Regions from separate parts of the Homo sapiens genome. Here regions 2, 3 and 4 are each linked to region 1. The links come from fine-mapping of genetic effects on gene expression. A gene starts in region 1. Each other region holds a variant in brackets. All regions are shown on one strand. Distances are from middle to middle. Region 1 holds the start of TP53I3 (tumor protein p53 inducible protein 3). Region 2 overlaps UBXN2A (UBX domain protein 2A). Region 3 overlaps WDCP (WD repeat and coiled coil containing). Region 4 overlaps FAM228B (family with sequence similarity 228 member B).

Evidence for each region. PIP is the estimated chance that this variant, and not a neighbour inherited with it, causes the effect. A credible set is the group of variants that fine-mapping cannot tell apart.
Region 2: its variant is the best candidate, but not a certain one, in a credible set for the expression of TP53I3 in whole blood (INTERVAL, PIP 0.86).
Region 3: its variant is the best candidate, but not a certain one, in a credible set for the expression of TP53I3 in blood mononuclear cells (TOPMed, PIP 0.59).
Region 4: its variant is the best candidate, but not a certain one, in a credible set for the expression of TP53I3 in whole blood (INTERVAL, PIP 0.52).

The regions. Positions count from the first base shown.
Region 1 is chr2:24,082,087-24,087,544 of GRCh38, forward strand. It overlaps TP53I3 (tumor protein p53 inducible protein 3), which reads right to left and starts at 2,748. Exons shown (of 5, transcript NM_004881.5): 1 at 2,103-2,748; 2 at 799-1,066. The coding sequence starts at 2,240. It also overlaps a transcript of FAM228B not described here. RefSeq lists enhancers at 460-1,390, 1,986-2,085, 2,236-2,285, 3,033-3,533 and a silencer at 2,296-2,475.
Region 2 is chr2:23,947,315-23,952,797 of GRCh38, forward strand. All of the region lies in intron 1 of UBXN2A (UBX domain protein 2A), which reads left to right. Among named protein-coding and RNA genes, the nearest start is that of UBXN2A, 9.6 kb to the left of the region's middle. The variant T/A (reference allele first, on the strand shown) is at 2,574.
Region 3 is chr2:24,039,603-24,045,085 of GRCh38, forward strand. The region is part of intron 1 of WDCP (WD repeat and coiled coil containing); the gene reads right to left. It also overlaps a transcript of FKBP1B not described here. Among named protein-coding and RNA genes, the nearest start is that of WDCP, 5.0 kb to the right of the region's middle. The variant C/G (reference allele first, on the strand shown) is at 2,519.
Region 4 is chr2:24,132,976-24,138,458 of GRCh38, forward strand. FAM228B (family with sequence similarity 228 member B) reads left to right here. Exons shown (of 11, transcript NM_001145710.2): 3 at 2,144-2,212; 4 at 4,934-5,125. Among named protein-coding and RNA genes, the nearest start is that of FAM228B, 12 kb to the left of the region's middle. The variant C/T (reference allele first, on the strand shown) is at 2,807.

The DNA.
Region 1 (5,458 bases):
CTGGGCTCAGGTGATCCTCCCAACTCAGCCTCCTGAGTAACTGAGACAACAGGCATGCACCATCATGCCTGGTTAATTTTTGTATTTTTTGTAGAAACAGGGTTTCGCCATGTTGCCCAGGCTGATCTTGAACTCCTGGGCTCGTGATCTGTCTTCCAAAGTGCTACGATTATAGGTGTGAGCCACCTTGCCTGGCTGATACTCTTTCTTAGGCCACCTTGGCATGCCTTATGTCCTTCACAAGTCTACCCACCCTTCAAAGCCTTCCAAAAAGCCTTCTGACTACCCTTGTCCACACCATCTTTACTCATCTCCAGCTTCTATCATAGACAGGGCTATCCTTCTAAACTCTATGGTCATCTGATCTTATGCATATGTTGCCTTCTCAGTTACACTGCACTGTCTAAAGGCAAGGACCAAGTCTTCTTAGATTCCCTTATGTGAGTTCTTGACTGGCCTCTGTGGGATTGAGGAGGAATAAATGAGTCAATTGGTCCCTTCTGTTGCACTGGGACCCCAGAGAGAAGCTCAGTATGATTCTAAGAAGCTGGGACTTCTGCTGGGCGTCCGGTGTTAACATGTACATAGGCCTCCTATCTAGTGTTATCCAGACCCTCTATCTGCTAACCATGATTCTCAGCCTCAACATTAAACCCTTCTAACATGGTTTGAGGACCTGACAATACAGGTGATACAGGAAGGCCTGGGAGTGCCCTGGGGGATTGCTGGGATTCAAGTTGGCTGATTTATGAAGGTGTTGAGCCACATTGTGTGGAGTGAGCATGGAGGCCTCCTCACCCACAAGATGTAACAGCTGGAAGGCGGTGAGCCAGGCCTCTGGGATGGCTGCAGCCTGGGTCAGGGTCAATCCCTCTGGGATAGGCATGAGGAGCCCTTCGGGGACAGTGACGTACTGAGCCTGGCCCCCACCGGGGAGCAGAGCCATGGCTGTGTCCCCGATCTTCCAGTGTCCCTGGCAGCCAGGCCCCAGCTCTGCCACATGTCCAGATGCCTCAAGTCCCAAAATGTTGCTGGCTCCTGGAGGTGGGTCATACTGGCCTTGTCTCTGCAGAGAAAGAAGTGCACTAAGTGGTGAGCATGATCAGAAATCTGTATGTCACTACCCCTGGCCCCCCTTCCAAGATCCCCTCTTTTTTTTTTCAAAAATAAATTTCAGAATGAAGTCAGGTTTTTGTAAGTAAGGAGAAGAAAAAGGAGAGGCCATTAGTTTTATGCAAATAAACTGGAGGTCACATGATCAGTGGATGTTATAACTGGTAGAGTCCTTAGCTATTTACCTCATCTGAACCCCTTGCTTTACAGATGGAGAAACTGAGTCCCAGACGGGAAATAATAGTAGTGGGATTAGGAACCTTGACGATGGTTCCCATGCATCAAGCGCTAGGCTCTGTGCTCACTCACCCCAGTCCTCAGAAGCTGTAGAGCAGAGGGACTTAACCAGGAGTGTGTGGCAGAACCACCTGAGGAGTATTTCAAAGTACACGTGCCTGGGCCCCCATCACGTTTCTTTTGTGCCCCGGGGGATTCTGATGCACATTTCTGAATGACCCCAACCAATGCAGCTGGCCCAGGTCAGTAAATCAGCATCAGACAGAAGAAAATTCTTAAGAGTACTGCCCGCTGTCAGCTCCGGGACTCTCAGAGTGGAAAGAGTTAAGAGGTCTTTGGAGCCACAAAGACCTCAGCTTGAATCCCAGCTCTTCTGATTGCTAGTGTCACGGCCTTGGGCGTACTGCTTAACCTCACTGAACTTCAGTTTCCTTATCTGTAGAATTAAGATGGCGAACAGGGTAGCCTGGGGAGTAAGTGTGCCCACACCCCACAACAATGTTAGTTCCGCCCTCATCTGGAGGCCTGAGTGGCTATGGATTAGCTCGGGGTGGATTCTGCTTTACAAGTACTCCCCCTTGTTTTGCATGAACAAAGAGGGCGCCCTGGGTTTAGGTCTGGGAAGCCCCAGCGCAGCTGCCTGCTGGGTGTGGAGCGGTGCACGCCTTCACGTCTGGTCAATGTCCACTGAGTGCTGTTGAGAGGGAGGCTCTGGAGTCCCGCCCGCCCCGGCGCGGCTGAGCCCTGGGTACCTGCATTAAGTCCGCCCGGTTCAGGGCGCTGGCCGCCACCTTCAGGAGGACTTCACCCTCCCCCGGGCTCGGCTTGGCCACCTCCTTCACGTAGAGGTTTTCCGGTCCTCCCGGCTTGTCAAAGTGCACGGCTAACATATTGTCTGAGGACACAGGGCAGGGCAGGGCAGGACAGGACAGGGCAGGGCAGGGCAGGACAGGACAGGGCAGGGCAGGACAGGACAGGGCAGGGGCCGCTGTATCCTCGCGGAGCAGCCCAGCCTCAGGCTGGCACCGCAGCGCCCCCTGCCGGCCAGCGCCTCGCTGCCCTGGTCTGCCGCGGACCCGGCCTCCGCCCCGAGCTCCTGCCTGGGAAGTCCTCGGCCGCCTCCAGACCGATCCCACCCGGAACACAGATGGGAACGGCGGGAAGTGGGATGGCGGTACAGGGCTGGATGCGGCAGAGCAGGACAACGCCGAAGAGGATCAGGCAAATCACACTCCCTCTGAGTTGGAAGCCCCCAGCCCGACCCGGGTCCCCGGCGCCCGTATGAGTTACTTACTCCTGGCCCGGCTCCCCTCCCATGCACCAGGCGGCGCCGAGTGGTTCTGGCTCCTGCGGGTCCCGGTGACAAAGCCCGAGCCCCAGAGCCCCAGGACTGCCTCTGCCTCCACCGGAATGGACGGCTGGACCTGGGGTAGCCGGAGGGGTGGGGCTAAGCAGAACCACCCTCCCCCTCTTTCCTTTCCTCCTTCCCCCTTTAAAACGCAAAGTTAGAAGCAAGCAAATCAGATTTTCTTGTCCTTTTAGCCTCTGGAAAAGAGTCTTTCTCTCAGCTTGACAGAAAGTGCGATTCTAGCTCTCACTTCAAGGAGAGGAAACTTCCTTCTCTCTAGGGAACGAGACCCAACCTCTTGGCGGGCGGATTGGTCCATTTTCCAGGCATGGCCAGGCTTTTGGCACATTTATGTAACAGGCTGGCATCCCGCCCATCTTGAGCATGGGTGGGCAAGCTGGGTGCTGCTAAGAGAAGAGAAAGGAGCCGTTGGGAGTGGGGGTGGGGAAGGAAGGCAAAACGCAGTCCTGGGATCCTTATCACTCGCCTCCTCCTGACAGTCCTGGGGGAGAGGTTCAGCCCCAGGAGAAGGATGCTGGCGATTGGGTAAAAGCTGTATCCGTAAGCTACATGAAGGTTTCTCAATCTCGGCGCTATTGACATTTTGGACTAGCTAGTTCGTTATTGTAGGAGATCGTCCTGTGCATCGTAGGATGTTTAGCAGCATCCCTGGCCTCCCCCCACTACATATCCGTAGCACTCCTTGTAAATTCCTGTTTTAGTAAGAACCTCCCATCCTTGACATCTGATCACCCTCAATATCTCATCCTCCACCATCCCCCAAGTGATATCCGACCACCCTGGCCTGTCTTCAGTGAGAATCCTGTTAGGTCAGTTTAGATAGAATCCCCCTTACCCCTGATGCCTCTTACCAATTTTCCATCCACTGACCCCCTACACTGCTCCTTGGCTATACATTCCCACTTGTCCGTGATGCATTCAGAGTTGATCCCAACCTGTCTCCTCCACTGCAAGAACTCATTGCAGTGGTCCCTAAACCTGTAGCGATGGTGCTAAATAAAGTCTTCCTTAATGTGCTTTAACAAGTATCATTGAATAATTATTTCTTTAACACAACAGAGCAAAAGCCTATAGAGATGGAAATAATAAAATGATGGGACTTAAGGAAAAATTCAGGAGACCCTGCTATGAGAATAACAGGAATTTTAGGCCGGGCGCGGTGGCTCACGCCTGTAATCCCAGAACTTTGGGAGGCCAAGGCGGGCGGATCACGAGGTCAGGAGATCGAGACCATCCTGGCTAACACGGTGAAACCCCGTCTCTACTAAAAATACAAAAAATTAGCCGGGCGTGGTGGCGGGCGCCTGTAGTCCCAGCTATTCGGGAGGCTGAGGCAGGAGAATGGCGTGAACCCGGGAGGGGGAGCTTGCAGTGAGCCGAGATCGCACCACTGCACTCCAGCCTGGACGACAGAGTGAGACTCCGTCTCAAAAAAAAAAAAAAAAAAGGAATTTTAGAAGGAGGAAGAGGAATGGATGAAGAAGATTCAATAGTTAACCAAATAAAAGAATACAGTTTTCCTAAATTCTACCAGATTATACGGATTGAAAACATTCACTAAAGGATGGATTCATAAGAACAAAAATGCATGCCTATATTTTATAAAATTTCAGGTTCTAACAAGTGTGGAAAGAATAAGTTACTCACAATTGGTTAAAAAAAATGGCTTCCTTCTCTCCCTCCCTCCCTCCTTCCTTCCTTCCCTCCTTCCCCACCCCCTCTTTCTCTCTCTCTCTTTTTTGTAGTGTAGGGGTCTCATTATGTTGCCCAGGCTGGTCTCAAACTCCTGGACTCAAGCAATCCTCCTGCCTCAGCCTCCCAAAGTGCTAGGATTACAAGTATGAGCCACTGTGCCCAGCAAGTTTCTATCTGCAATCTGGAAGCTAGAAGAGAGTAGACTAGCGTCTATTGACTAGAAGAAAAGCACTGTAACTCAATATACCCCATTAAGATATAATTCACTTGTTAGGGCAAAAAACATGTCTGAGGATGTATAAGGATTCAGAGACACATCATCCGGATACACATCTGTCCAAAATCGAGGAAAGGTTTGAACCAAATAAATATCCTAGAACAGAGACAGATGGAAAGGAAATAGTTGTAAATAACAAACTTTGCAAAAATCGACACTAAAACTGATTGGATTAAGAAAATGGAATGGATTAAGATAGATGAGGAATGTGTAATGTAAGTGCTAAATAAGAACTTTTAAGATGCAAGGAGTAACTTTAAAAAAAATCTAATAATACCAACCACTAAGTATACTAAAGTATCCCAGTAAAACTAGTAGTTGAAAGTGCCTAAGATTTTATCTTAGTGAGCCCTTGGTCGATGTAATCTTGCAGTGTGTAATAAGAAATATATATTTTTGGTCTTTGTCCTGGGTTCCTACAATAGCACTCCTAAAACCTTTGTTATTTGCTGAATAAACATCTCTTTCTTTCTTTTGTTTTTAACTAGATATACGGTCTTGCTACGTTGCCCAGGCTGATCATGAACTCCTGGACTCAAGCAATTCTCCCACCTCAGCCTGTAAAGTACTGGAATTATAGGCATGAGCCACTCTGCCTGGCCAATAAGTATCTTTTATTATATTTTGTTCTCCTGCAGAGCTCCTAAAACCCTTGGAATTTCGTATGTGATAGAAGTGACTTTTTATATTAATAACAAACCCTTATAAGCACACTCGAGTTTATGCTAATATGACTTAGGGTGGGGGCCCTAGATAGCTTCAGGATG
Region 2 (5,483 bases), 130 kb before region 1:
CTTTTTGGGATAGTATTTGAGAAGATGTTCGGTAAACTGTGATATGCTATATCAATGTAAGATGATGGTGATAGTTGGAAGTAGACCGAAGAAAAATGAAGGCAGTTCTTTTCATCTGTTCATTCTTGTGCCAACTTTATGCTGATAACTTGGATATTTGTCAGATGGCTTTTTTTATTCTCTGCAGTATAGTACATGACTTAGGTTCATTCATGTCATATGACTGTGATACATTTGTAGCAGCTCACTCAATTGATATAAATAAATTTTAGTTGGTTCATTTGCATGTTACTAAATTTATGATAGAAAATGACTGCGGTAATGGTGACTTTGTGGTGTCTCCATGTTAAAATTAATTTTTACATCATAATTCTATGCCATGCTTACAATTAGTAATTCAGTTTGTTTTTTCCTTATTAGTCCATAAAATTGTGCTACTAGAAACTGTCATACTGATACTGACACTTTTGTCATTAGTTTTAAATCAGTGGCTTGCACACATTGGTGGGTGGTTCAATAAGTATATAAAACATTTTTTTTTAAGTTTTTGTTTTTTTGAGATGGAGTTTTGCTCTTGTTGCCCAGGCTGGAGTGCAATGGCGGGGGCTCAGCTCCCTGCAACCTCCTCCTCCCAGCTTCAAGTGATTCTCCTGCCTCAGCCTCCCAAGTAGCTGAGATTACAGGTGCCCACCACCATGCACGGCTAATTTTTGTGTTTTTAATAGAGACAGGGTTTCATCATGTTGGCCAGGCTGGTCTAGAACTCCTGGCCTGAGGTGATCCGCCCGCCTCAGCCTCCCAGAGTGCTGGGATTACAGGCGTGAGCAACTGTGCCGGGCTTTTAAAAAGTTTAATTCGTGAAATCAAAAGTAAAATTTCATAATCATGTCAAAATTAGGACTTTTTAGATTAAGTCTGAAGATGTTTCTTTTTCTTTTTCTTTTTTTTTTTTTTTTGAGACAGAGTCTCACTCTTGTTGCCCAGGCTAGAGTGCAGTGGCGTGATCTCGGCTCACTGCAACCTCCACCTCCCAATTCAAGTGATTCTCCTGCCTCAGCCTCCCAAGTAGCTGGGATTACAGGCATGCGCCACCATGCCTGGCTAATTTTTGTGTTTTTAGTAGAGACAGGGTTTCACCATGTTAGCCAGGCTGGTCTCAAACTCCTGATCTCAGGCGATCTGCCCACCTCGGCCTCCCAAAGTGCTGGGATTACAGGCGTGAGCTTGAAGATGTTTCTTACCAATCTCTATAACAGATTATGGTGGGGGATGAGGAAAGAAAAAGGAGTATAACACTGTTGTATTCTTAGTATCTTCAGTCCTCAGAACAACCTGAGGGGGATAATTATGTCCATGCTATAAGTTAGGCAGCTGGGACTCAGAGAAGCTAAATAACATATACAAGGTCACCTAGCTCAAAAGTGATGTAGCCAGTATTCCAGTAAAACTCAGTTTGAATTTGAGGTCTATTCTATCTTCATTCTCTTTTGCTGTCATAAAACAAGTAAAAGCAATTTGTCAGTACCTTATAACTGTAAAATGATGGAAAAAAGTATTTGTAATTTCCTAGAGAACAATAACCTATTACTGGAAACTCAGTGAAATCCTTTAAGTAAGACTTCTCTTGTAGCTTTTTTTTTTTTTTTTTGAGACAGAATCTCTGTCACCCAGACTAGAGCACATTGGCGTGATCTCCCCTCACTGCAACCTCCATCTCCCTGGTTCAAGTGATTCTCCTGCCTCAGCCTCCCAAGTAGCTGGGACTACAGGCGTGTGCTACCAAGCCTGGCTATTTTTTTTTCTTTTTTTTTTTTTTTTTGTATTTTTAGTAGAGACGGAGTTTCACCATGTTGGCCAGGCTGGTCTTGAACTCCTAACCTCAGGTGATCCGCCTGCCTTGGCCTCCCAAAGTGCCGGGATTACAGGCATGAGCCACCACACCCAACCCTCTTGTAGCTTTTAGAAGAAATTTATTTGCCAGGCATGGTGGCTCACGCTTGTAATCCCAGCACTGTGGGAGGCCGAGGTGGGCGGATCATGAGGTCAGGAGATGGAGACCATCCTGGCTAACACATCGAAACCCTGTCTCTACTAAAAATACAAAACATTAGCCGGGCGTGGTGGCACATGCCTGTAGTCCCCAGCTACTCGGGAGGCTGAGGCAGCAGAATCACTTGAACCCAGGAGGTAGAGGTTGCACTCCAGCCTGGGCAACAGAGCAAGACTTCATCTCAAAAATAAATAAATAAATAATAAAAATAAAAATAAGTTTATTTATAGCCGGGCGTGGTTGCCCATGCCTATAATTCTAGCACTTTGGGAGGCCAAGGCAGGAGGATCACCTGAGGTCAGTAGTTTGAGACCAGCCTGGCCAATGTGGTGAAACGCTGTCTCTACTAAAAATACAAAAATTAGCCAGGCATGGTGGCACATGCCAGTAATCCCAGCTACTTGGGAGGCTGAGGCAGAAGAATCACTTCAACCTAGGAGGCGGAGGTTGCAGTAAGCTGAGACCTCACCACTGCACTCTAGCCTGGGCAACAGAGCAAGACTCTGTCTCAAAAAAAAAAAAA[T/A]TATTTGTATAAATGTGTGGGGTACAAGTATAATTTTGTTACATGGATATATTGTACAGTAGTAAAGTCAGAGCTTTTAATGTATCCATCACTGGAATAATTTCTCATCATCCCCCCACCCCCACCCCCACCCCCACCCCAAGGATCGCTACTCTTTGCTTTGCACTTGCTGCACACTGTGAAGGATACAGGAAATGTGTAAGTCATGGTACTTATCCTCAGCGATGTCAGATCTGGTAAAGAGAGTGAAAAGAAACAGTAATAAGCAATATCACACAATATGATTTAAATGCCAAAAATCTAAATGCTTAGGAGGAGACTATTACTAAGGGTCTAATATTTCATCTTTATGGTGGAAATGGATCTTGAGCTGGGACTTAAAGGATAGTTAGGATTTGAATGCCTAGGACGATGATTACAATGTGAACAAAGTAGTAGAATGAACATGTTATGCTTTTGAGATAATGAAGACCAGATCTAAACTATGGAAATATTTTATTTTATTTTTATTTTATTATTATTATTACTGTTTTTGAGACGGATTCTCGCTCTGTTGTCCACGCTGGAGTGCAGTGGCATGATCTTGGCTCACTGCGACCTCCGACTCCTGGGTTCCAGCAATTCTCCCACCTCAGCCTCTTGGTAGCTGGGATTACAGGCGCCCTCCACCATGCCTGGCTAATTTTTTGTATTTTTAGTAGAGATGGGGTTTCACCATGTTGGCTGGGTTGGTCTCGAACTCCTGACCTCAAGTGATCCGCCCACCTCGGTCTTCCAGTGTGCTCGGATTACAGGCATGAGCCTCTGCGCCTGGCCTATTTTATTTTATTTTTTGAGATGAAGTTTTGCTCTTACGCCCAGGCTGGAGTGAAGTGGCACGATCTTGGCTCACTGCAACCTCCACCCGCCGGGTTCAAGCGATTCTCCTGCCTCAGACTCCCGAGTAGTTGGGATTACAGGTATGCGCCACCACACCCATGCGTGGTTCGCCGTGTTGGCCAGGCTGGTCTCGAACTCCTGACCTCAGGTGATCCACCCACATTGGCCTCCCAAAGTGCTAGGATTACAGGCATGAGCCACCATGCCTGGCCTATTCATTATTTTTTAGTTGACAATAATTTTATATATTTATGGGATACATTGTGGTGTTTCAGTACTTATGTACATTATGGAATGGTCAAATCAGGCTAATTACCATGCCCCTCAGCTCAAATACTTAACATTTCTTTGTTGTGAGAACATTTAAAACCCATTCCTTCTGCTATTTTGAAGCATACAGTATTATTAACTGTAGGAGATTATTTTGAATTAGTTGAAAATAATGTTGGAGAACTGCCAAGTGAAAAACAAACAGCCCCACCAGATTATAATGTCCAAAAGAGCTGGGATCTTTATCTATTTTGTTCAATATGTATCCCAAGCACCTAGAATCATTCATGTCTGATATATAGTAGGTGCTGAATAAGTATACACTTTAGTTATTTTTAACAACTTTCCATCATTATAATTGATATACAGTAAGATGGATATATATATATATATATATATATATATATATATATATATATATATATATAGTTTTGTTTCATTTTGAGACAGTTTTGCTCTTGTCACCCAGGCTGAAGTGCAGTGGTGCGAGCTTGGCTCACCAGAACCTCTGCCTCCAAGGTTCAAGCGATTCTCCTGCCTCAGCCTCTGGAGTACTTGGGATTACAGGCACCTGCCACCATGCCCAGCTAATTTTTGTGTTTTTAGTAGAGACGGGGTTTCACCATGTTGACCAAGCTGGTCTCGAACTCCTGGCCTGAAGTGATCCCCCTGCCTGGGCCTCCCAGAGAGCTGGGATTACAGGCATGAGTCACTGTACCATTTTATTTCTTAAAAAAGAAACAAATGAGTCAAGCTGATCTGAATGGTCAGGGTGGGTGTTTATATTTTTCTCTTTCCTTTGTGTATGTTTGAAATATGTAGACATTTTTAAAGTGAAGCAATTAATTTTAGGAATACTACGTTTGAAGGAAGAAATCTTATGAGAAAACGTTAATGGGCATAGAGTTATGATTTCCTGAAGTTTTTTTCCTTTTTTTTTTTTTTTTTGAGACAGAGTCTCACTCTGTCACCCAGGCTGGAGTGCAGTGGTATGATCTCGGCTCACTGCAACTTCTGCCTCCTGTGTTCAAGCAATTCTCCTGCTTCAGCCTCTCAAGTAGCTGGGACTACAAGCGCTCGCCATCACACCCGCCTAATTTTTGTATTTTTAGTAGAGATGGGGTTTGACCATGTTGGCCAGGCTGGTCTCAAACTCCTGACCTCAGGTGATCCACCTGCCTTGGCCGCCCAAAGTGCTGGGATTACAGGCGTGAGCCATCACACCCGGCTGCTGGGTTTTGTTTTTTAAGACGGTCTCCCTCTGTTGCCCAAGCTGGAATGTAGTAGAATGATCACAGGTCGCTGCAGCCTCAACTTCCTGGGCTCAAGCGATCATCCCATCTCAGCCTCCGGAGTAGCTGGGACTACAGGCATATGCCACCGTGCCGGGCTAATTTATTTTTTATTTTTATTTATTTATTTTTTTGAGACAGAGTCTTTCCCTGTCGCCCAGGCTGGAGTGCAATGGCGCGATGTCAGCTCACCACAATCTCCACCTCCCGGGTTCAAGCAGTTCTTCTGCCTCAGCCTCCTGAGTAGCTGGGATTACAGGTGCGTGCTACCACGCCTGGCTAATTTTTTGTGTCTTTAGTAGAGACGGGTTTCACCATGTTGGCCAGGCTAGTCTTGAACTCCTGACCTTGTGATCTACCTGCCTTGGCCTCCCAAAGTGTTGGTATTACAGGTGTGAGCTACCACACACAGCCAAATTTTTGTATTTTTTGTAGAGATGGGGTCTGGCTATGTTGCCCAGCCTGGTTT
Region 3 (5,483 bases), 42 kb before region 1:
CCCAGGTTAATAATGTGGAGAGACAAAAGGACAGGGGGAGTATTATAAATTAAGAGACTACTGAGCTATCAGGCAAATGCAATGTATATACTTTGGATCTTGAAGAAATAAAATCTTCTACCTAATGAAGATTTTTAGAACTGGGGAAATCTGAGTATGGAATGGATATCAGAAAATATTGTAGAGTTATTATTTTTCTTCTTTTTTTTTTTGAGACGGAGTCTCACTCTTGTTGCTCAGGCTGAAGTGCAATGGCACAATCTCGGCGCACTTCAACCTCTGCCTCCTGGGTTCAAGCGATTCTTCTGCCTCAGCCTCCAGAGTAGCTGGGATTACAGGTGCCTGCCACCAGGCCCAGCTAATTTTTTTTTTATTTTTAGTAGAGACGGGGTTTCACTATGTTGGCCAGGCTGGTCTCAAACTCCTGACCTCAGGCAATCCACCCACCTCAGCCTCCCAAAGTGCTGGGATTATAGGCATGAGCTCCCGCGCCCGGCCAGAGTTATTAATTTTCTTAAGTGTGAACATGGTATTGTGGTTATGCAGGACAAGGTCCTTATTATTTAAATAAGCATGTTGAAGCACTTGGGGTAAAATGTCATGATGCCTACAATGTGCTTTCAAATGGTTTGACAAAAAAAACCCAAATTTTCTATAGACACACAGAAAGAAAACAAATGTAGCAAAATGTTAATAATTGTAGAGTCTAGATTGAGGCTATGTTAGTATTTATGGTACTTTCAACTTTTAAGTTAGAAAATTTTCCAATTAAAAATTTAAGAAAAGTCTCCTCCATCATCTAATTTCTATTCGTCCTTTCACTGCCAAATCAATGAATAACTGATATGCACATCTCTGACTTTATTAGCACTTATTTCAAATCCTTCCAAAGTGGCTTTTATCCCTCTATTGAAATGACACTCAAAAATCACTGTTTCTATTTCTACTTCTACTTCATCTTATTCAACAGCACTTAATAATTTTCAGAACATTTTCACATTCCCTATTGCATTTTATCTTACAATAATCTTTTAAAATAATGTAAAGTAGGTTAGGCAAGTATTATCTTCATTTTTTCACCCTGAATATTTTTCCCCCAGGCATTTGAATCACTAAAGAAGCATATGCTTAGGGCTGGGCGTGGTGACTCACGCCTATAATCCCAGTACTTTGGGAGGCTGAGACGGGAGGATCACCTGAGGTTGGGAGTTCGATCCCAGCCTGACCAACATGCAGAAACCCCATCTCTACTAAAAATACAAAATTAGCCAAGTGTGGTGGTGCATGCCTATACTCCCAGCTACTTAGAAGGCTGAGGCAGGAGAATCGTTTGAACTGGGGAGGCAGAGGCTACAGTGAGCTGAGATCGTGCCATTGCACTCCAGCCTGGGTAACAACAGCGAAACTCCACCTCAAAAAAGAAACAACAACAACAAAAAACAAGTACATGCTTAGGCTGGGCACGGTGGCTCATGCTTGTAATCCCAGCACTTTGGGAGGCTGAGGCGGGTGGATCACCTGAGGTCAGGAGTTTGAGACCAGCCTGGCCAACATGGTGTAACCCTGTTTCTAATAATAATACAAAAATTAGCCGGGCATGGTGGCGCATGCCTGTAATCCCAGCTACTCAGGAGGCTGAGGCAGGAGAATCACTTGAACCCAGGAGGTAGAGATTACAGTGAGCCAAAATTGCACCATTGCACTTCAGCCTGGGCGACAGGAGCAAAACTCTATCTCCAAAAAAAAAAAAAAACTGTTCCCTCCTACTCAGTGCCAGCCCCTTTAGCTCCTCCTCCTTTCCAACATTTCAAAGCCTTGATAAAAGCATCATTAACAATTTGGTGTTTAGCCTCTGAAAATGTTAAAGAAAGACACAAAGATATATAGGATTTTACATGTTATGGCTTTTCTTTTAAACAAAAAATGGGGTAGCCAGGCATGGTGGCTCATAGGCATGAGCCACCCAGCACTTACACCCATTACACCCAAAGTGTAATCCCAGCACTTTGGGAGGCCCAGGCAGGCAGATTACCTGAGGTCAGGAGTTCGAGACCAGCCTGGCCAACATGGTGAAACCCCATCTCTACTCAAAATACAAAAATTAGCTGGGCTCGGTGGCAGGTGCCTGTAATCCCAGCTACTCGGGAGGCTGAGGCTGGACAATTGCTTGAACCTGGGAGGGGAGGCGGAGGTTGCAGTGAGCTCAGATGGCGCCACTGCACTCCAGCCTGGGCAACAAAAGTGAAACTCTGTCTCAAAAAAAAAAAAAAAAAAAAAAAGATACATATAGTCAGTAGGGAGAATAAGGACATTATTTGGATAAGCTGTAATACCTGAATACTCACTTTGAAATATAAACATAAAAAATACTATTTAATGTAAAATGAAAAACTGCCTCAGGAAAATTATATTTTGAAATACTATCAATCAGTGGATACATAAATATATAATAATGGATATAAGAATAAAATGTTGCAATAATAAACACAGACTGAGAAAGACTAATTTTAGTATAAAG[C/G]CTGGGTGTGGCAGCTCACGCCTGTAATCCCAGCACTTTGGGAGCCCGAGAAGGGCAGATCACGTGAGGTCAGGAGCTCAAAACCAGCCTGACCAACGTGGAGAAACCCCATCTCTACTAAAAATACAAAAAATTGGCCGGGCGCAGTGGCTCACGCCTGTAATCCCAGCACTTTGGGAGGCCGAGGCAGGCGGATCACGAGGTCAGGAGATCGAGACCATCCTGGCTAACACGGTGAAACCCTGTCTCTACTAAAAATACAAAAATTAGCCAGGTGTGTTGGCGGGCGCCTGTAGTCCCAGCTACTCGGAAGGCTGAGGCAGGAGAATGGCGTGAACCCTGGAGGCAGAGGTTGCAGTGAATCGAGATCGCACCACTGCACTCCAGCCTGGGTGACAGAGCAATACTCCGTCTCAAAAAAAAAAAAAAAAAAAAAAAATTAGCTGGCTGTGGTGGCGCATGCCTGTAATCCCAGCTACTCAGGAGGCTGAGGCAGGAGAATCGCTTGAACCCGGGAGGTGGAGGTTGCAGTGAGCCGAGATCGTGCCATGGCACTCCAGCCTGGGCAACAAGAGTGAAACTCTGTCTCAAAAAAAAAAAAATTTAGTATAAAAACAATTACTGGGCCAGAGCCAGGCGCGGCGGCTCACGCCTGTAATCCTAGCATTTTGGGAGGCCGAGGCGGGCAGATCACCTGACCATCAGGAGTTCGAGACCAGCCTGACCAACATGGAGAAACCCCGTCTCTACTAAAAATACAAAATTAGCTGGGCGTGGTGGCACATGCCTGTAATTCCAGCTACTCAGGAGGCTGAGGCAGGAGAATCACTTGAACCCAGGAGGCGGAGGTTGCAGTGAGCTGAGATCATGCCATTACACTCCAGCCTGGGCAAAAAGAGTGAAACTCCGTCTCAAAAAAAAAAAAAAAAATTACTGGGCCAGGTGGCTCATGCCTTTAATCCGAGCACTTTGGCAGGCCAAGGCGGGTGGATCACCTGAGGTCAGGATTTCGAGATCAGCCTGGCCAACATGGCGAAACCTCGTCTCTACTAAAAATACAAAAAAATTAGCCAGGAGTGATGGCACACTCCTGTAATCCCAGCTACTTGGGAGGCTGAGACACGAGAATTGCTTGAACCTGGGAGGCAGATGTTACGGTAAGCCAAGATGGCACCACTGCACTGTAGCCTGGACAACAGAGTGAGACTCGGTCTCAAAAACAAAACTAAACAAAATGACTGTTGGCCAGGCACAGTGGCTCATGCCTGTAATCCCAACAATTTAGGAGGCCAAGGCAGAAGGATCACTTGAGCCCTGGAGTTCGAGACCAGAGATCAGCCTGGACAACACAGCAAGATACTGTCTCTACTTAAAACAAAACAAAACAAAACAAAAAACCCCCCAACAATCTACAAACATATATAAAGTGATGTTTAACCTTATTAGTTATCAAATAGTTGTGTAAACTGGCAGTACTCATATTTTTCACCACTCACTCTCTTCTTAATATACTTAAAATGAATTCCATTCCAATTTCTTCTCCAAAACATCTCTCACCAGGCCACCAGTGCTTCCCTGTCACTGAATCTAAATGACATTTTTCAGCCTTGTTTTACTGAGTAAGTGTCAAAGGCAGAACTTGAGAAGTTGTCTTCAGACTCTAAATCCAATGAAATGTATTCTCTACCAACCTGGTGATTTGCTTATCTGTAAATTATTTCGCATATCTCCTTGCTAGCTTTGTCCTTGCTCTTAGGATCTTTCACTTAAAAAAAAAAAGGGTCTATTATGCTTTTATATATGATGTCAGATTCAGTGGTTCTGCAGCGGCTTGCTAAACGGAGAAAAAAGTCCAGTCATTACTAATGAAGAAAACTGTGATCTCTGTCCCACTGGTCTTATGAAAGATAATAATGTTTTCTCCCTAATATCTACTTATGTACTTTAAAAAGAATTTTATTGATAAATAATGCCATGATACACTTTCATGGGCAGAGAAAATTCCTAATGGGCCAATTACATCCAAGTCGATTTATATATTTTAGGATACCAAATTCTGTCTAATGTCAATGAGGGTGTGTGTGGCCAGGGTAGCACAAGACAAGGATTTGGGAATAAGAGAAAAACAAACATAAGTTTACTGAGGTTTTTTTTTGGGGGGGGCGTGGGGGCACAGTCTTGCTCCGTTACCCAGGCTGGAGTGCAGTGGCATGATCTGGGCTCACTGCAACCTCTGCTTCCTGGGTTCAAGTGATTCTTGTGCCTCAGCCTCCCAAGGAACTGGGATAGGGGCCCACCACCATGCCCAGCTAATTTTTATATTTTTAGTAGAGACTGGGTTTCACCATGTTGGCCAGGCTGGTCTTGAACTCCTGACCTCAAGTGATCCTCCTGCCTTGGCCTCCCAAAGTGCTAGGATTACAGGCGTGAGCCACTGCATGGGCCAGTTTACTGAGGTTTTTAGAAGAATGAATTTTAATATTGTCATCTTCGGTAACAAGAAGAAATGTGGCACATTTTTCTCAAAAACGCAGTGATAATTACAAAAATCTGCTCCATTCCTTTCTACTCCTGTGTTAGCCCAGGTTCTGACTTCTCCCTTTTTATTAGGGTAAAACAAGGAGAGGTCCCCTTGATACCAGTCTCTACTTTCCAAATGAGCCTGCATACTATGTGTTGTTGGGCAGAATTATCTTTAAAAAAAAAAAAAAAAAAAAAAAAGCACAGCGGTGATCATTTTGCTCTTCTGCATAAACACCCTTGATGAATCCCCACATCTACAGTATATAAAAAGCCTCAAAATGTCTTAACAAGGCAATTAAAACCTTATATTATCAGATATTGATATATCTTTCTAAGTTTATTCTCTGATCATAAAGGGCATGCTGAGGAATTTGGAATCTTGGGGGAACCAGCATATATTCAAGTAACAATATGCAGAATGGACCTGAGAAGGAAGAAAGTT
Region 4 (5,483 bases), 51 kb after region 1:
ATTTGTGGCATCCTTTCTTTGGCTCCCTCTTTTCCAGTATTTTTCCTCTCACCTTCCAGCTCCCATGCTTACCCCAAACTCTGTCTTCTAATTCCTGAACCAGTTAGGCCGCATGTTTCTATCTGAGTTTTAGCCACCTCCTTTACCTCAGACTAAGGCCCTTTCTCAGGCAAGTTAATAAAAAACTGGAAATTCATCTAGTGCTGTTTTTTTTTCTTGGTGTTGAATAGCATTCAGTAACTTCCTGCTTTTTGATCACTCTCCAGTGTCTTCAGGTTGTTGTTTTTTATATTTTTTATCTGGAATGTTAATTCACTACCCCCTATCTGAGTACAGACTTTCCAGGAAGGGCAACTCTATGAGGCAAAAATAACAAAGAAAACAAACTAGAGTAGACTCATTTGAGTTTTCTATGCTTCTAGTTGTTGCTTAGCTCCCATGAGCCTTGGCTTCTTTGGATGTTAATGGGGAAGGACAGTTCTTAGATAATGAGATTTTACTCATCTGTCCTGGAAATAAAAGCAGTGGGACTGAAGACAACTACTTTCACTGACAGTTAACTTGAGAATATTTTATTTGTATGTAATTACATGAGGATCTCAAAGGCAATTCTGTGCTAGAAATCAACTGCTTCCATTTTCTGGCAGGTATTTAATAATTGTGGAACATTTGTTATAAAAATGGAAAAATTAATGCTGTCATAATTTTGTCACTAATATCACTGTTCCCTAAAGATTGTGTTATTTCAAAATCTGAAAATGTGACTTGTATATAAAAATAGGATTTGACTGGGCATGATGGTGGCTCATGCTTGTAATCCTAGCACTTTGGGAGGCTGAGGTAGAAGCATTGCTTGAGCTCAGGAGTTTGAGGGTACAGTGCGCTATGATCATACTACTACACTCTAGCCTAAGTGACAGAGCAAGACTGTCTCCAAAATAAGTACATTAAAAATAAAATTTATTAATATTTATTTGATAGCCATATTCACTAATGATAAATAAATTTGTTCCAATTATATTTATGTCAATACTGTCTAAGAAATTTGTTTCAGTCTTTTGGGTAATTTGTCAATTGTCATGGAAAAATTAAATGAATATGTTTCCTTTTATTTTAATAAGAGCTTTCATTTTGAGAAGATCTAATTACTTGTTTAATTATAATTTTACATTTTATAGACAGTTGTGAGTTAATGGATAAAAATATAACTCATTTCCTTGATTTATTATATCCATAGGCTTATGTTTCAGTAATTTTCAAAAACAAAATTAGTGGGTGAATTCATTATGGAAGAACACGAAAAAGAACAGGAGATTGAATAGAAAGTCTTTCTAAGACCTTGTATTATTGTTCACTAGTGACATTTCTTCTATGTATAGAGTTTGCCTTAGGTGGCACTAAGCTTTTAGTGAAACTGTTGACATATTCTTAACTAGTTCTGTAAGAATCAAGGCTGGAAGATTAGTATGTCTTGCATAGTCAAAAAGCCTCAAATAGAGGCCTAATTTAATCTATTTTAACCCAGAAAAGTAAAAGCATTTTATAGGAAGTGAAAAAAGATGGATTGTAACTACCATGTGACTCTGGAAAAGACATTTGAACATTTTGGGACTCAAAGTGTCTGTGAGCTGAGTTATATTTTGGTGTAGCCAAGAGCAGACAGATCGAAATACTGTTTAAAAAGCACTTGATGGGCTGGGCACAGTGGCTCAGGCCTGTAATCCCAGCACTTTGGGAGGCTGAGGCAGGCAGATCACTTGAGGCCAGGAGTTTGAGACCAGCGAGGCCAACATGGCAAAACCCCGTCTCTATCAAAAACACAAAAATTAGTCAGGCATGTGTTGCACACCTGTAATCCCAGCTACTTGGGAGGCTGAGGCACAAGAATCGCTTGAACCCTGGAAGTGGAGGTTGTAGTGAGCCGAGATGGTGCTGGTGCACTCCAGCAGCCTAGGCGACAGAACAAGACTCTGTCTCAAAGAAACAAACAAAAAAAAGCACTCGATGATATGATTTGGAGGAAACAAACTGCATGCATAGAGAACTTTCCAGGGATATGTCTGTCATGCTAAATATAATGATTCCAGATAGCACTAATAGTTTTTAAAGATTTTCTTTTCAAAGTTTAATTCTGTCCTTTCAGGTTTTAGCTAAAGAAGATACTGAGGCAGCTATTCAATCAATATTATACAAAGAAAATTCTGTAATTAAGGTAAGAATTGGCTACAAAATGCATCTCAGTTAAAAATTAAATGTAGTTTTTCCTTTTTATATGTAGCATATTCTATAAAAACTATTTAGAAAATATGGAAAAAAGAATTAAAAGAACACTCCCTTGCACCTGGAATTAACCTTAAGGGATCTCTGAAATTGCTCTAATGGACTTCCTCCCTTCCTATACTTTGTGGGAATTCCTTTGCAGAGAGGCACAGAAATTTTCCTCTACTCACTTGTTTCTTTGTCTTAGTGGGTTTCAGCAGTCACTATAAATGAGCTAACCCTTAAGAGCTGTTAGCAGAACACACTGACTAATTATTACTCAGATATACATAGAACAGGGTTTAACTGAGCCAGGATGGGCTTAATGTGACAAGAAGAACATCCATGTGAAGTGTACTAAACACCAGGGACACTGGAGTGGGTAACCTGTTTTTATTTTTAAGAAATTTCTTTAGAGCTCTTTAAAAAGGAAAGGAACTAACATTGGGAATGGCTGAAGTGTGCTATGGCCAGAGGTTAGGGAGGGACTCGGCCTAGCAGACCTCTCAGGGTTCTTAATATTTTATTTATTTCATTTTGAATTTCA[C/T]GCTCTTCCTAGTAGTCACATGACTTTATTTGCTATATGAAAGGTGAATGAGAAGGTTTAGTGAGAATGAATTAGTTTGTAGCCTAATCAAGCATCATCTTTGCAGGCTACTTGCCACTTGGATTAGGTTATGCCACACTTCTGCCTCTTTACTCTTGCCTTTTTTTTTTTCTGAAGGTCAGTTATAGTGAAGGGTTTTTTTTTTTTTTTTTTCCATAGAATGTTTTTCTTCCTCTTTTTCTGCCATCCCTTCTCTTCCTGGATAACCCTTCTTTTTTTTTTTTTTTTTTTTTTTTTTGAGACAGGGTCTCACTCTGTCACCCAGGCTAGAGTGCAGTGGCACAATTACAGCTCTCTGCAGCCTTGGCCTCCTGGGCTCAAGTGATTCTCCTGCCTCAGCCTCCCAATTAGTTGGGATTACAGGTGTGAGCCACGGAGCCTAGCTAAGTTTTAATTTTTTTTTGAAACGGAGTCTTACTTCTTTGCCCAGGCTGGAGTGCAATGGTATGATCTCGGCTCACTGCAACTTCCACCTCCCGGGTTCAAGCAATTCTGCCTCAACCTCCCAAGTAGCTGGGATTATAGGCACGTGCCAGCATGCCCGGCTAACTTTTGTATTTTTAGTAGAGACGTGGTTTCACCACATTGGCCAGGCTGGTCTCACACTCCTTACTTCAAGTGATCTGCCCACCTCGGCCTCCCAAAGTGCTGGGATTACAGGCGTGGGATTGCCACTACGCCTGGCCAAGTTTTAATTTTTTTGTAGAGACGGAGTCTGACTATTTTCCCCAGGCTAGACTTGAATTCCTGGGCTCATGTGATCCTCCTGCCTTGGCCTCCTGAAATGCTAGGATTACCGGCGTGAGCCACCGCACCTAGTGTAAATCCTCATTCTTAAAGGCCCAGCCCAAATGTCTCCCACTTTGGGAGTCTTGGCTTTGAAAAAAAATTAATCATTTTTTTCAGTGTATGCGATATAAAAGTAAATATACACAATATAAAATTTGCCATTTTAACCATTTTAAGTGTACCATTCGGTGTCATTAATCACATTCATAATGTTGTGCAACCATCACCACTATTTCCAAAACTTTTTCCTTACTCCAAACTGACAGTTTGTATTCAATAAGCAGTGACTCCTCATTTCTCCCTCCCCCAGGCACTTGGTAACCTCTAATCTACCTTCTGGCTCTATGAATTTTGGCTATTCCAGATAGTTCGTATATGTGGAATCCTGTACTATTTGTCCATTTGTGTCTGACTTATTTCACTTTGGCATACTCTTTTCAAAGTACATCCATGTTGTAGCATGTTTCAGAACTTCATTCCTTTTTGTGGCTGAATAATATTCCATATTACACATATAAATAAATGTGGTATGTATATACCACATTTTATCTGTTCATCTCTTGATGGATACTTGGATCGTTTCCACCTTTTGGCTATTGTGAATAATGCCGCAATGAACATTGGTGTACAAGTATCTATTTGAGCCTGGATTTTCATTCATTTGGGTAGGAGTGGAATTGTTGGGTCTTATGGTAGGTCTGTTTAAATTTCTGAGGCCCACCAAACTGGGAATCTTTTAAGAATCTAGCAAATGGTTTTTCTCTCCTCTGTCTTCAGTTATTTTATTTATAGTATGCCATACATATATCCATCATATATAAATATACATCTTGCTATATTCCCCCTCCCACTGTTTGTGATTTTGTTTGTTTGTTTCTTAGGGATGGGTTTTCACTCTGTTACCCAGGCTAGAGTGCAGTGTCCCAGTCATGGTGTACTGCATCCTTGAAGTCCTGGGCTCAAGTGATTCTCTAGCTTCACCCTCCCAGGTAGCTGGAAATATAGGCAGGCGCCACCTTGCCTTGCTTTTGATTTGTTCTTTAGTCTTTCTCCCCAGGGAGAGCAGGCATGTTGCCCCAAATACCTGTGTTTTCCTTGTTTGCAGCAGAGTGTATGTCACATAGTAGAAGTTAAAGCCAAAGAAACGATTGAATTAATGAATGTCTCTGTGGGTTATTCTTAGGAGTAATTTAAACTTATGAAGTTTAAGTTTTGGAAAATTTTAGAACAAGAAAGCTTTAGGATAATATATTTGTCTTTTCTACCACTGTTTACTAGGAACTAGATAAGTATTTACAACATCATGCCTTCTTAAATGCAAGAAGAAAGGAGATGTTATATAAAAGATGGGTTGACTGTGTGGCAGATCCTCTTCAGAAGAAAATTATAGAAAAAGTTTGCTCACATAAGAAGATTAAAAAAAGGAGGCAAGGGGAATTAGATGGCTTTTTAAAACATGTAAATAAAAAGGTACTAAGAGATCATTTGATGCTTTTTTCAGTTGATTTAGACCTAATGTCATCTTTGTTCATTTATAATCATTCAGTCAGTCTGTCCCTGTCCCCTCTACATATGTATCATCTATACCCTGTTACATAATAGCATAAAGTATTCTTAAACCCAGGACATTTGGAAAGGAGAGAAAAGGAAGATTAGATTTAATTGTCTACATTAGAACCATTTTTCTGTGTTTTCCCCATGTGGTTATTATTATTATTATTCGAGATGGAGTTTCACTCTTGTCACCCAGACTGGAGTGCAATGGCACGATCTTGGCTCACTGCAAACCTCCACCTCACGGCTTCAAGCAATTCTCCTGCCTTAGCCT